Regions from separate parts of the Homo sapiens genome. Here all the other regions are reported to be linked to region 2. The links are microRNA targets in miRTarBase. Many come from high-throughput screens and were not tested one by one. Region 2 holds a microRNA gene; each other region holds the end of a gene's coding sequence.

Region 1 (3,103 bases), not on the chromosome of region 2:
CAGCGCTGCCACACGGAACAGCGGCCGTACCGATGTGGCGTGTGCGGCCGAGGCTTCCTGCGCTCCTGGTACCTGCGGCAGCACCGCGTGGTGCACACTGGCGAGCGGGCCTTCAAGTGCGGCGTGTGCGCCAAGCGCTTCGCGCAGTCGTCCAGCCTGGCAGAGCACCGGCGGCTGCACGCTGTGGCCCGGCCCCAGCGCTGCAGCGCCTGTGGCAAGACCTTCCGCTACCGCTCCAACCTGCTGGAGCACCAGCGGCTGCACCTGGGCGAGCGCGCCTACCGCTGTGAGCACTGCGGCAAGGGCTTCTTCTACCTGAGCTCCGTGCTGCGCCACCAGCGCGCCCATGAGCCGCCGCGGCCCGAGCTCCGCTGCCCCGCCTGCCTCAAGGCCTTCAAGGATCCCGGCTACTTCCGTAAGCACCTGGCTGCCCACCAGGGCGGCCGGCCCTTCCGCTGCTCCTCCTGCGGCGAGGGCTTCGCCAACACCTACGGCCTCAAGAAACACCGCCTGGCGCACAAGGCCGAGAACCTCGGGGGGCCTGGAGCAGGGGCGGGCACCTTGGCCGGGAAGGATGCCTGACCGAGGGGTTCCCATCCCACTCCCATCAAAAGCCCCCTTCTGGACTCCCACCTCCCAGGACTGATCAGACTCTTCCCCCCTCCTCGCTGTTGCCCCATCCTTCAGAACTTCACACGGACTGGCGACCTTCAGGGCGCACGCCCGACAGGCTCAAGACTGAATCACTCCCATCCTCGACCTCTCTGCCCTCCCCTCATCCCATCAGACACTGAACCCTATCCTCCGTCCAACCCTCGTTTGTGACCCGCATCAGCCCCCGCCCCAGCAGCACTCTGCCCCCAGTAAGTTTTGGCGGAGATGGGTCTGAACCGCCCCTCCCCCTCCTTTGGAATCTGGCTGGACAGTGGAGTATGAGCAGAGTTGGGAGGGCACAAGGGAGTGCTGGGTGCTTTTTGGGGTGGGGGGGTGGGGGGCGGGGTGGCAGACGCGGCTTGTACAGAGCGGAGAATAATAAATCTTACCATGAGGGCCGCTGGAGTCCATCCTTGCATCCCACCCAGGGAGAGTGGGGATCACATGGTGGCAAAGCACAAAGTTAAAACTTGTTTCCTCTGCAGTTTTGATGCCGGGCGCCTCTGTCTCTCACTCACTCTCATTCAACAGGGACTTACTGAGGATTTGCTGTATTCCCAGCGTTAGTCTGAGCTGGGCAAATGGAGATGGACAAGACAGGTAAGTGTCTGCTCTCAGGAACTGACTTAACATGCCCCGACTCTTCCCCTTCCGGATGCTTTCAGCCTTTGTTCACTCCACCACCACTTCCGGAGACCTCCTGCCTGCCAGGCCCTGAGCTGGGCACTGGGGAAACAGATGAATTGGACGTGCCCCTTGGCCTCAAGTAACACAAAAGAGAACTCCCATCCGGCTGCCGTGGCTGCCTCACAACCATGTGCAGACTGATGGTCATGATACAGCTCCCTCTTAGCACTTGTCCTCCAGGGTAATGATTGGGAGATTCAAAAGCCCGTTCACAGCTCTCATGTTGGCTCTGGGAACAGCAAGATGTATGCCTGGCAATGTGTGTTTAGTTATCTCATTTGTTAGAAGAAGGGCCTGGGGTCCTGAAGAACAAAGGTGCTCCAGGGACATCTCAAAAATCCACAGAATTTGGACTCCAGGCCAGGCATGGTGGTTCACGCCTGTAATCCCAGCACTTTGGGAGGCCGAGGCGGGCAGATCACTTGAGGTCAGGCGTTTGAGACCAGCCTGGCCAAAGTGGTGAAACCCCATCTCTACTAAGAATACAAAACTTAGCTGGACATGGTGGTGGGCATCTGTAATCCCAGCTACTCAGGAGGCTGAGGCAGGAGAATCACTTGAACTCAGGAGGCAGAGATTGCAGTGAGCTGAGATCGCACCACTGCATCCAGCCTGGGTGACAGAGTGAGACTCCATCTCAACAAATAAATAATTTGGACTTCAGTCCCAGAGTACTTCAGTACAGAAACTTGAAGATGAGGCCAGGTGCAGTGGCTCATGCCTGTAATCCCAGTACTTTGGGAGCCCAAGGCGAGCAGATCACCTGAGGTCAGGAGTTCGAGACCAGTCTGGCCAACATGGTGAACCATCCTTTCTACTAAAAGTACAAAAATTAGCTGGGCGTGATGGCAGGTGCCTGTAATCCCAGCTACTCGGGAGGCTGAGGCAGGAGAATCACTTGAACCCAGGAGGTGGAGGTTGCAGTGAGCTGAGATTGCGCCACTGCACTCCGGCCTAGGCGACAAGAGCGAGATTCCATCTCAAAAAAAAAAAAAAAAAAAAAAAAGGAAAAAAAGAAACTTGAAGATGAAACTAGGTAAGAGCGCTGCTTGGGTGAGTCCTGTGTGACCCATGGGAGAGCAGCTACCCTGTGTGGCTCCATGTTCTAATGCTGAAGACCCAGCATGAGACAGACGTTGTGCCAGTGCCCCCAGGGTTCAGGGTTCAGCAGTAACATGGAAATGGAGCCTCACAGTGTAAGGGACTTGGAAGTATCACTAGGGCTTGAGGGAGCACAGAGGAGTCACCTGTCAGAGTGGAAGGGGGGCTAGAAAAGCTTCTTGGGGAGAAGGTGATCCCTGAACGATGACATAAACCAACTGGAGTTTTCCAGGTAAAGAAGTGGCAAAGAGGCCGGGCACGGTGGCTCATGCCTGTAATCCTAGCACTTTGGGAGGCCGAGGCAGGTGGATCACGAGGTCAGGAGCTCCAGACCATCCTGGCTAACACGGTGAAACCCTGTCTCTACTAAAAATACAAAAAATCAGCCGGGTGTGGTGGTGGGAGCAGGTGGCAGGCGCCTGTAGTCCCAGCTACACGGGAGGCTGAGGCAGGAGAATGGCATGAACCCAGAAGGCGGAGCTTGCAGTGAGCCGAGATCATGCCACTGCACTCCATCCTGGGCGACAGAGCAAGGCTCTGTCTCAAAAAAATAAATAAATAAGAAAAAAAAAAAAAAAAAGAAGTGGCAAAGATTTCCAGGCGGAGAGTTTAGTGTGTTGAACTAAACCCTGCTATTCTGGAGCATTTAAGACAGATTAGT
Region 2 (3,103 bases):
TATTAGGTGCCGCATGACCCTTGTAAGTACCTACACCCAGGCCCCTGGCCTCGTTGGCCCCATCTGGCACAGTTTCTCCCCCTCCTCTTCTCCAGATGGCCTGCACGTGCGCTGTCTATGTGCGCACCTGTTCCTCATGTCTAGCTGATCCAGCATCCCCAGACTCTTCCAAGATACAAATCCCCTGGGGTGCTCATCAAGCTTGAAGCTTCCCAGGCCCCTTTGTAGGAGAATCTGATTCAGAAGGGCTGGGAATATATGTTTTTTAAATAAGTACCTCGGATGACTCTTATCAGGAAAGTTTAGAAGACCTTGGACTGGGGTGACTGTATTTCAAAACGGTTTAGTTTCCTGTCTTTTGGGAAAGGCACTTCCATTCATTCATTTATTCATTCAGCCCTGAATTTAGGCCCCTTTTAGGAACCGAGGATATTGTGATAGACAAGACAGTCCAAGTCCTTTTGCTCATGAAACTTAGGGTCTCGTGGTGGCAACAGACAACAGCCAATAAAGCATTTAAGATAAAAAGACAGGAGAGAATCAATGCCTTGAAGAAGCATATGGCAGGCGGGGCGCAGTGGCTCATGCCTGTAATCCCAGCACTTTGGGAGACTGAGGCGGGCAGATCACTTGAAGCCAGGAGTTCAAGACCAGCCTGGCCAACATGGTGAAACCCTGTGTACTTAAAAATGCCAAAAATTAGCTGGACATGGTGGCACACGCCTGTAATCCCAGCTACTTGGGAGGCTGAGGCACAAGAATTGCTCGAACATGGGAGGTGGGGGTTGCAGTGAGCCAATATCGCACCACTTTACTCCAGCCTGGGTGAGAGAACGAGACCCTGTCTTAAAAAAAAAAAAGAATATAGCAAAGAATGGGAGGAACAGGAGAGAGAGGAAGTGAGGCCATGGGAGACAGTGTGTCCAGGGAAGCTCTCTCTGGGGACCTGATGATGCGGTCAGAGGGCAGAGTAAAGAAGAGAACAGTTGTTGGTGTTGGGAGAGGGACTCCAGGCTGACAGAGCAGTGAGTGCAAAGGCCCTGAGGCTCATGCTTGGTTTTTTGGAGAAAGAGCAAGATGACCAGTATGGTGGAGGAGGGGCAGAGGCAGGCGGGGCTATATCATGGGGGGCCTCTGGGCCGTGGAAAGACTTTGGATTTTGTTCTAAGATGGTGGCAGGTCTTTGGAGCAGGAAGGCTGTTATGATCTGATTTACGTTTCTAGAAGATTATTCTGGCCGCTGGTAGAGAATAGAGTAGGGAGGCCAGGGTGGCAGCAGGGATACCAGTTAAGAGGTTTTTGTCATAGCCCAAGGGGAAGGCGATGATGGCTTGTACCAGGGCGGTGAGGACAGAGACATGCTGATGGGTGGGGCATAGCAGACAGAAAAGGGAATTTAAGAAAATTCCTCACTGTTTGGTCACAGCTAGGGGCATGATGGTGGCATCCACTGTGATGGTGAACATTGTGGGAGGGAAATTTTAGCTGTGGAAGCCATGAGTTCTCTTTATCAATGTTTAACATATTCCATTCATAAGCACCCTCAAATTGAACTTAAAGGAAGAGTCAAGTCAAGGCCAGAGGTCCCACAGCAGGGCTGGAAAGCACACCTGTGGGACTTCTGGCCTTGACTTGACTCTTTCCAGATATCTGAGTCAGACGTTTTCAAAGCATGCACCATGACCCACGGGTGTGTTGTAAAATGGATTTAATGAGTTGTGACTAGTAGTTCATAAAAGAACAATAGAAAATGTTAGTTTGTCACACATAGTAAGGATAGTACTTTTAAAATAAAACTTGTCTCGGTTTTCTATATATATTTGTATGTAAATCACATGCAAAAAGAGAAAGGGATGAGGCCAGGAATCAGGAGATCTTCATTTTAGCTGCAACTCGGCCTATAGCCAGCAGTGTGTCCTTGGACAGATCACCTTCTATCCTGCACGTCCATTTCTTTACCTGCAAAATGGGGTTAGGGATGAGGTGGTTTAATCTTTTAATACCTGGCACCTCCTCCCCTCCCCTCCCCTCTTCTCCCCTCCTCTCCCCTCCCATCTCCTCTCCTCCCTTCCCCTTCTCTCCCTTACTCTCCCTTTCTCTCTTCTCCCTTCCCGTCTCTCATGCTCTCAGTGGGTGGGCAGCATACCCCACTGGCCAGGAGGATTATGTTTGAGGTTTGTGTCTTAATCTGTTCAGGGTGCTACAACAAAATACCATAAACTGGGTGGCTTATACACAACAGAAATTTATTCCTCACAGTTCTGGAGGCTGGGAAGTCCAAGACCAAAGCATTGGCAGATTTGGTGTCTGGTGAGGCCCTGCTTTCTGGTTCATAGACAGTCCCTTCTTGCTATGTCCTCACATGGTGGAGGGGGTAAGTGGTCTTTTTTGGGACGTCTTTTATAAGGGCACTAATTCCATTTAAGAGGGCTCTACCCCCATGACCAAATCACCTTCCAAAGTCCCCACCCTCTAAAATGATTATCTTGGGGGTTAATATTTTAACATGAATTTTAGTGGGGACACAAACATCCAGATTATAGCACTTTGCGTCCTGCCATTTCTCTTGCTCAGTCAGAATCAGTTTTGAGGATACTTTCCCTAACCACGTAGATTCATTCTCTTTCCTTCTGTGAAAGTCATTGGACTAGGTGGTCTCTAAAGGGCCCTTTTTGTCTTAGATGTGCCTGATGGTGCACTAACCTGTCAGGTTGACAACTGATTTGTACTTGGACAGGGATCTTATACTTTCGGAAGTAGGCATGCTGTCTGGGCATGTTTCTGCAGATGGGCCAGAATTCTCTAAAAGAGGGAATGGGTTGGCTGCTGGGGCCATTGGTTTGGGGGACTCCATTTGGTGACCCAGTTCTTCTCCTGGCCGGTAAATATTTTAATGTATACACTATATTCTTCAAAGCTGAGTATTAGAGTCCCCACTGGAAGGCTTCCATGTCAGTAAATCTCACGGCTCTTGGATGAAGCTGCATCTTTTCCCAAGCTATACCAAGCACATTCACGTAATTCTTAGATTTACTCCCTTGACCTTCATATGCCAAGTTTAATTCACTTTAGTTCTACAACCACCTTCTACAGGCTGGGCGTC
Region 3 (3,103 bases), not on the chromosome of region 2:
CTTCAAAGGTGATTTCAATGAGGTATATGAGTATCAACATGAACTTACACATTCAGGCATATTTGATGTGCTTCAAACCACTGTGGTTCTTTTTGCTGCTCAACATGTCCCACCTTTGGTGAGTGACAGCCCTTCAGACTGGCTCCTGAGTTCCTTTGACTTGGCCACAGTAGTCTTGGAGGACTCTTTGCTTCCTGGCACAAAATATCCTGGACACATTTTGCACATTTCTTGCCCCAGACCTGGAATCAGCTGTTTTCACAAAAGTCCCTAGTTCTTAGTCAGAAATGGCACTTATAGAGACCACAGTCTGTATACTAGTGCTGCTCAGTGTTACTGGGGTGTCATTATATTTAGACCTTTTCAGGGGACTTAACTAGGGAAATACATATTTTTTAGAAAGAGAAAAATCATGACTTTATTCTGATATTTCCAATTCATGTGAAAGACTACAGGGTGTTTACTTGAGTTTATATTTGTTATCTTTTTTCATTTACACTAAAAATCTTGGTCCCCAATGACATTACATCACTACTTATTTGCTTTAGTATATAATTCAAAAAATATAAGGTAGAATCTCAAAAATTTAAACGGTCTATTTTATCAAAATAAAAATGCCAGTGTTATTACTAACAATGTGACTACTGTATGAAGTTGAAGATTTTGTTGAGTTCAGTTGAAGGTGGGGGCTGGGAACTGTGATGAGGAGAGAGAGGAGGAGCAGACACACTAAGGACTACATGGGAAAGCCAATGTGGAAAGGCTGGGAAACAGCAGCCAGGGGCAGGAGGAAAGCTGGGAGAGTAAAGGGACTCTGGAGGCCAAGAGAGGAGTTGTGTGAGAGATGGACAGCAAGGTTCAAGATCATAAAGCTGCCAAACTTCCAAATTTGAAAACTTACTGCAACACCAGTAAAACTACCATCTGTGCATGTTTTTCTTCTGGGGCCAGCCAAATTAAATCTAATGTTCACTTAGTTTGGGAAAAAAAATTTACTGAGACAGGGGAAACTAATCCCAGCAGGTGAAGATTTGGGAGGCAGAGGCGATAGAATCACTTGAGGCCAGGAGTTGGAGAGCAGCCTGACCAACATGGTAAAGCTCCGACTCTACAAAAAATACAAATATTAGCCAGATATGGTGGTGGGTGCCTGTAATCCCAGCTATTCAGGAGGCTGAGACATGAGAATTGTTTGAATCCAGGAGGCAGAGGTTGCAGTGAGCTGAGTTCATGCCACTGCACTTCAGCCTGGGAAACAGCCAGATTCTGTCTCAAAAAAAGAAAGAAAGAAAGAAAAAGAAAAGCACCTAAGAGAATCCAGCCATTTCAGATATGGCAATGTGGTCAGGCGCGGTGGCTCATGCCTGTAATCCCAGCACTTTGGGAGGCCGAGGCAGGCAGATCACTTGAGGTCAGGAGTTCGAGACCAGTCTGGCCAACATGATGAAACCCCGTCCCTACTAAAAGTACAAAAATGAGCTGGGCGTGGTGGTGCGTACCTGTAATCCTAGCTACTGGGGAAGCTGAGGCATGAGAATGGCTTGAACCTGGGAGGCGGAGGTTGCAGTGAGCTGAGATCATGCCACTGCACTCCAACTTGGGCAACAGAATGAGACTGCATCTCAAAAAAAAAAAAAAAAAAAACAAAAGAAAACAAGAACAGATATGACAATGTGTCACAAGCCTTTCTATTAAGCTACTGTAGGAATGACACATGGAGAGTTAAATACAAAGCAGGTCTGGAGAGAAGCCAGATATAACCCAATTAAACATGGAAATTTAGTGCATAAAAAGGTGGCATCTCAAAAGTGTAAGGGCTTTGCTTTATAAATTGAGTAACCCACGCAGTGAAATGCACAGGCCTTAAGACTACAACTACATGAGCTCTGACAAATCTCTACACCTGCGTCACCGCCGCTGCTCTTGACACAGCACATTCCCATCAGCTAGGACATTTCTGTGTCTCCTCCTCAGTTGATCCCTGCCACCCACCTTCCCTCAGAGGCAACTGCCACTCTGACTGGGAATTTCAGTAAGTGCTACTAGGATATATGTAAAATAAGACAAAATTGGATCCATGTGCTAGGATAAATTCCAAATGGCTGATTTACATGTAAAAAAAGAAACTATACAAACTAGAAGGCAATCTCATCTTTTAATACATTCCTCACCCCCAACCTACACTGTCCCCCTCAGTGGCCCTTATTGCAGCACATCCTGGCTCAGGGCCTTTGCATGTGCTGTTGCCTCCAGCTGCAAGCCCTTACTCAGCCACCCCTGTTGCTCCTGCTCACCCCTTGACGGAGCACGACCTGGGCAGTGTGGCCCTCAATTCAAATCACACATCCCACCCCCTGCTGGATTTCCCACACAGCAGTTAACTTGCAGCATACTACATATATATTTTCCTTATCTTGTAAACTCTGTCTCCCTGCCCTAGAACTCAACTGCTGGAAGACAGGGTTTTCTGTTTCTTTTGTTCAGTGTGGACTCCCCAGCGCCTAGAGGAGGTGCTCAATTACTTTTTGCTGAGAATGAAAGTGATGAAGGGGTTTTAGGGGGTGCTTTAGCGGGATGAAAGGACAGGGTCCAGGAGCTGAGTGGGGCAGCAGAACAGCACATGAGGGGACTGCAGGTGCGGGTGGGGACGACTGCCGAGGAATCCTGGCGCTGCTTTCTTCCAAATGTCCTGGGGGAGGTGAGGTGTTGGGGTGAACAGTGTCAAGTTCTCGGCTTCCGTTTGAACCCTCTCTTCAGCTGCACAGCTTCTGCAGGGCCCCCTGGGCCTGAACCCAGCGCAGCCGCCACTGGGGCAGGGACAGGCCCTGGCAGAGCTCCTCAGAGAGGGCGGCCTGGCCTGGCTGCTCCCACCTGGGGAATGGCATGGCGTCAACGAGGAAAGGACTGACCCTCCAGACCCTCCCTGCAAAACCATGGCCTGCTCCTTCTCATCAGGCCCCCAGCTTGAGTCCTGACTTTTCTGTTTCCCATCCGCGGCACGTTCCCCTCTCACCAGTCCCCCACGATCCCCTGCAGCTCAGGGATTCGCTCCAGTGCCTGTTTCAGTAGCTTCTCCAGCCTCTTCAGAGCCTGCCCCAGGTTC
Region 4 (3,103 bases), not on the chromosome of region 2:
GAGTTTTAATGGGTAGCTCCAGTCTCTGCCACAATTGTCGAAAGGAAGCAGTTGATGGATTGGTTCTTGGTGCTACCAAGGGAAGTGATCAGGTTTTTTAATCCAATTTTTTTGTGTCATGATGAATCCATTTTTTAACATTTCTGTCACAAACAATAAGCAGTAATACACAGTTGTACAAATATGTTCTGTTTTTTTTTCTCTTCTAGTCAACGAAACGGAATATTCCAATGCTCTTTGTCCGGGGAGATGGCGTTGTCCTGGTTGCCCCTCCACTGAGAGTTGGCTGAAACAAAGAATTTGTCCTGTATGGAAAACGGGAGACTTTGTACAGTGGCCTCTCTAAAAGTACAAAACATTCATAAGAGAAACCTGCATACATTTTGATATTAAGAAATAATTCCGGGGATTCTTCCACTCCTGAAATGAGTTGATTTGCAGATAACTCACAACTTCTTAAGCTAAATGGTATTTTCATTTTTCTCAAGCTCTCCAATAAATATGACCACCAAGATGCAGAACTCTTTCAGGACTTCTTTTGCTCCATTATTCTCACAGATACTTACTGATTTTTCTTTTCTTTAAATTGGTGTTTCCTTGTAGATTTTTTTAAGTGCGGTCTTCTGTCTTGTGAATTATTTAAAGTAAGCATGTCTTACCTTCACTTAGCACACATTTGCAGTGCACCTACTGTGTTTGAGGCACCAGGTTTGAGTGCTGGGAACCAGAGTTTTATCAAAATGCTTTCTGGGCCAGACATGGTGGCTCATGCCTGTAATCCCAGCACTTTGGGAGGCCAAGGTGGGTGGATCACCTGAGGTCAGGCGTTTGAGACCAGCCTGGCCAACATGGTGAAACCCTTTCTCTACTGAAAATATAAAAATTAGCCAGGCGTGGTGGCGCATACTTGTAATCCCAGCTACTCAGGAGGCTGAGGCAGTAGACGCTTGAACCCAGGAGGCAGAGGTTGCAGTGAGCCAAGATCACACCATTGCACTTCAACCTGGTCAACAGAGCGAGACTCCGTGTCAAAAAAAAAAAAAAAAAAGTTTTCTGCCCTCAAGTCTTCTGGGGAGGCAGATGTTTAAACCAACAATTGCAGGCAGTAAGATTAGTGCTGATAGAATCATGCACATGCAGGATGCCATAGGAGCATGGGGAAGAGCACCCAAATATGGGAGAAAGGGGCAGAGGGACATTGTAAACATCAACCCTGCAGTAGAAGACAGAGCAAAGCATGATTTCTCTTTTCTCTGGCCTGATTTAATTCTAAGGTCAGACGTTCAGCTTGATCATAACCTGTTTATAATTATGACTCAGACCATTTTTCCACTCTTGGATCATTGGCCATTAATGATGAGGGGTCTCAAACAACATGTCTCAGTGACACAGTAAAGCAGAAATTGGCTGAAAGCAAAGCTGTTTTTATTTCTAGCTTCAGTCAGCACATAATGCTTAAAACCTAAAGAGGAAAGTAAAAGCGTGTTACAATCTCTCAAACTTTATCAAGACAGGGCTTAGAACCTGACATCCTCCGCTATGGTCATTCCATTTTGAAATGTAGAAAATCCAACTTGTGGATGGTTTGTCTGTAAATGAGCTGAATGTGTGTGCGTGTTCATTATCAAGCACGATATGCTCACAAATGCACAGTACTTTAAGCCTTGTGCAAGAAAGATGCTTTCAGTAAACATATTTAAAAGGTTTTATTTTCCTTACTAATGGTACATGCCCCTGCAAGTTCATGGAGAAGAGAAAAACAAGTGTGGGTGAGCTGATGGAGGCTTCATCTTAGGTGAGGAGGCAGGAGAGACACCCTCCCTTCACTTGTGCCATCCCCACGCTTTGTCCTTAAGCTGTAGTGGTCCCAGGAGATAACCTGTTTACAGCAGCCCATTCAGTATTGAAAAATGAACTCCCTCCTGCAGAATGTTAGAAGAAACAACCTCAAAGACCTCAGGCCGCCTGTGGTCATTAGTATGTGGCAGCAAGATTGAACCTGCCTGCCTCCTACCTGTGTGAGCCTGTGGTGTGGGTGTGGTACCAAGGCCCTGGCTCTGGGCAGTCTGTTGGCTCCTGGTGTTCACTAAGGCGTGGGGTGACAGGCCATCTGGCCTCGCTCTGCCAGTCTGCAGTTCTCCCCAGCACTGCATTCATTTTTAGTGGTTTCTGATAGTCACACTGAATTCCTGGACACTTTCTTCTCTTCATTCTTAGTTATCTTTCTCCTTTTTCTCCTGGAACTGATAGTTTACACTAAAACTTTTGGCTGTGAGGACTTGATTATACACATTTCTAAAACCCATGAACCTTAATATCTGACACTGTTACTCTCATATGCACACACAACTAAAACATACCAACCTACTTCATTTCCTAGCTGCTAAGATACAAGGGGAGGGACAATAAAAGGTTAACTGCAGAATAGCCACCTATGTGTCAGGAAATGGAGGGAGGGGAGGCAATGTGTGAGTCCTTTTGGAGCTGGGACTCAATCCACAACAGAGACAGCTCAAGCAGGGCCCTGCCATGGTCCACACTGAGGTTTCCTCTGCAGTGGTGCTGTCCACTGAGGGGTTATGGTGTGAGGGCCCCTGGGAGCCACGCCTTGGACTTCTGAGTCTGCAGAGCACTCGGCTCCAGCCAGCTGGATGGCAGGTGGTCAGTGGAGCTGGTGACTGGTGGTTTCTGCAATGAGGTGTCAGATTAGCCTAAGGGAAGCCTCTTCAGCAAGTATCATGCCTGGATCCCGGTCTTGGTTGTTTTATGAGAGGCCGATATGAATTGCCATTGCCTCCCACAAAGAAAAATGGACAAAATATGGGACCACATCTTTGAGATGAAATGTGCCCAAAATGAAAAGTAACTTGAGTATCCCAAGTTAAACTTAATCATTAGCTGCAAATGGACGATTTTCAAATTTCAAATAGTGATTTTTGAAGATTTGCCCAAACTAGAGTACTATCCCTCTTCACACTAAGAGGCAGAAAGTGGTTTCACACACCCTTTTATTTAATCAGCTAAAGTGGGTGCGGTGACACACACCTGTAAACTCAACCACTAAGGAGACTGAGGCGGGAGGATTACTTGAGCCCAGGAGTTC

The links. The annotated mature microRNA hsa-miR-3922-3p reads UCUGGCCUUGACUUGACUCUUU and lies in region 2 at 1,621-1,642, shown strand. An mRNA with a match to its seed (bases 2 to 7 or 8) in the 3' UTR can be bound and repressed. Matches are read on the target gene's strand: a 7mer-m8 pairs with bases 2 to 8, a 7mer-A1 pairs with bases 2 to 7 and ends in A, and an 8mer does both.
Region 1: miRTarBase lists ZNF865 as a target of hsa-miR-3922-3p. The part of its 3' UTR that is shown has no 7-base or 8-base seed match.
Region 3: miRTarBase lists HAUS5 as a target of hsa-miR-3922-3p. Seed matches in the 3' UTR shown: 7mer-A1 at 1,431-1,437.
Region 4: miRTarBase lists LSM3 as a target of hsa-miR-3922-3p. Seed matches in the 3' UTR shown: 7mer-A1 at 751-757.

Annotation. Positions count from the first base shown.
Region 1 is chr19:55,616,217-55,619,319 of GRCh38, forward strand. ZNF865 (zinc finger protein 865) reads left to right here. Exons shown (of 2, transcript NM_001195605.2): 2 at 1-1,053. The coding sequence ends at 582. Among named protein-coding and RNA genes, the nearest start is that of ZNF784, 6.8 kb to the right of the region's middle.
Region 2 is chr12:104,590,074-104,593,176 of GRCh38, forward strand. MIR3922 (microRNA 3922) reads left to right here and starts at 1,560; the gene lies at 1,560-1,643. All of the region lies in intron 1 of CHST11 (carbohydrate sulfotransferase 11), which reads left to right.
Region 3 is chr19:35,622,644-35,625,746 of GRCh38, reverse strand. HAUS5 (HAUS augmin like complex subunit 5) reads right to left here. Exons shown (of 19, transcript NM_015302.2): 18 at 3,014-3,103; 19 at 392-2,871. The coding sequence ends at 2,754. Among named protein-coding and RNA genes, the nearest start is that of RBM42, 4.8 kb to the left of the region's middle.
Region 4 is chr3:14,197,827-14,200,929 of GRCh38, forward strand. LSM3 (LSM3 homolog, U6 small nuclear RNA and mRNA degradation associated) reads left to right here. Exons shown (of 4, transcript NM_014463.3): 4 at 210-3,103. The coding sequence ends at 290. Among named protein-coding and RNA genes, the nearest start is that of LSM3, 21 kb to the left of the region's middle.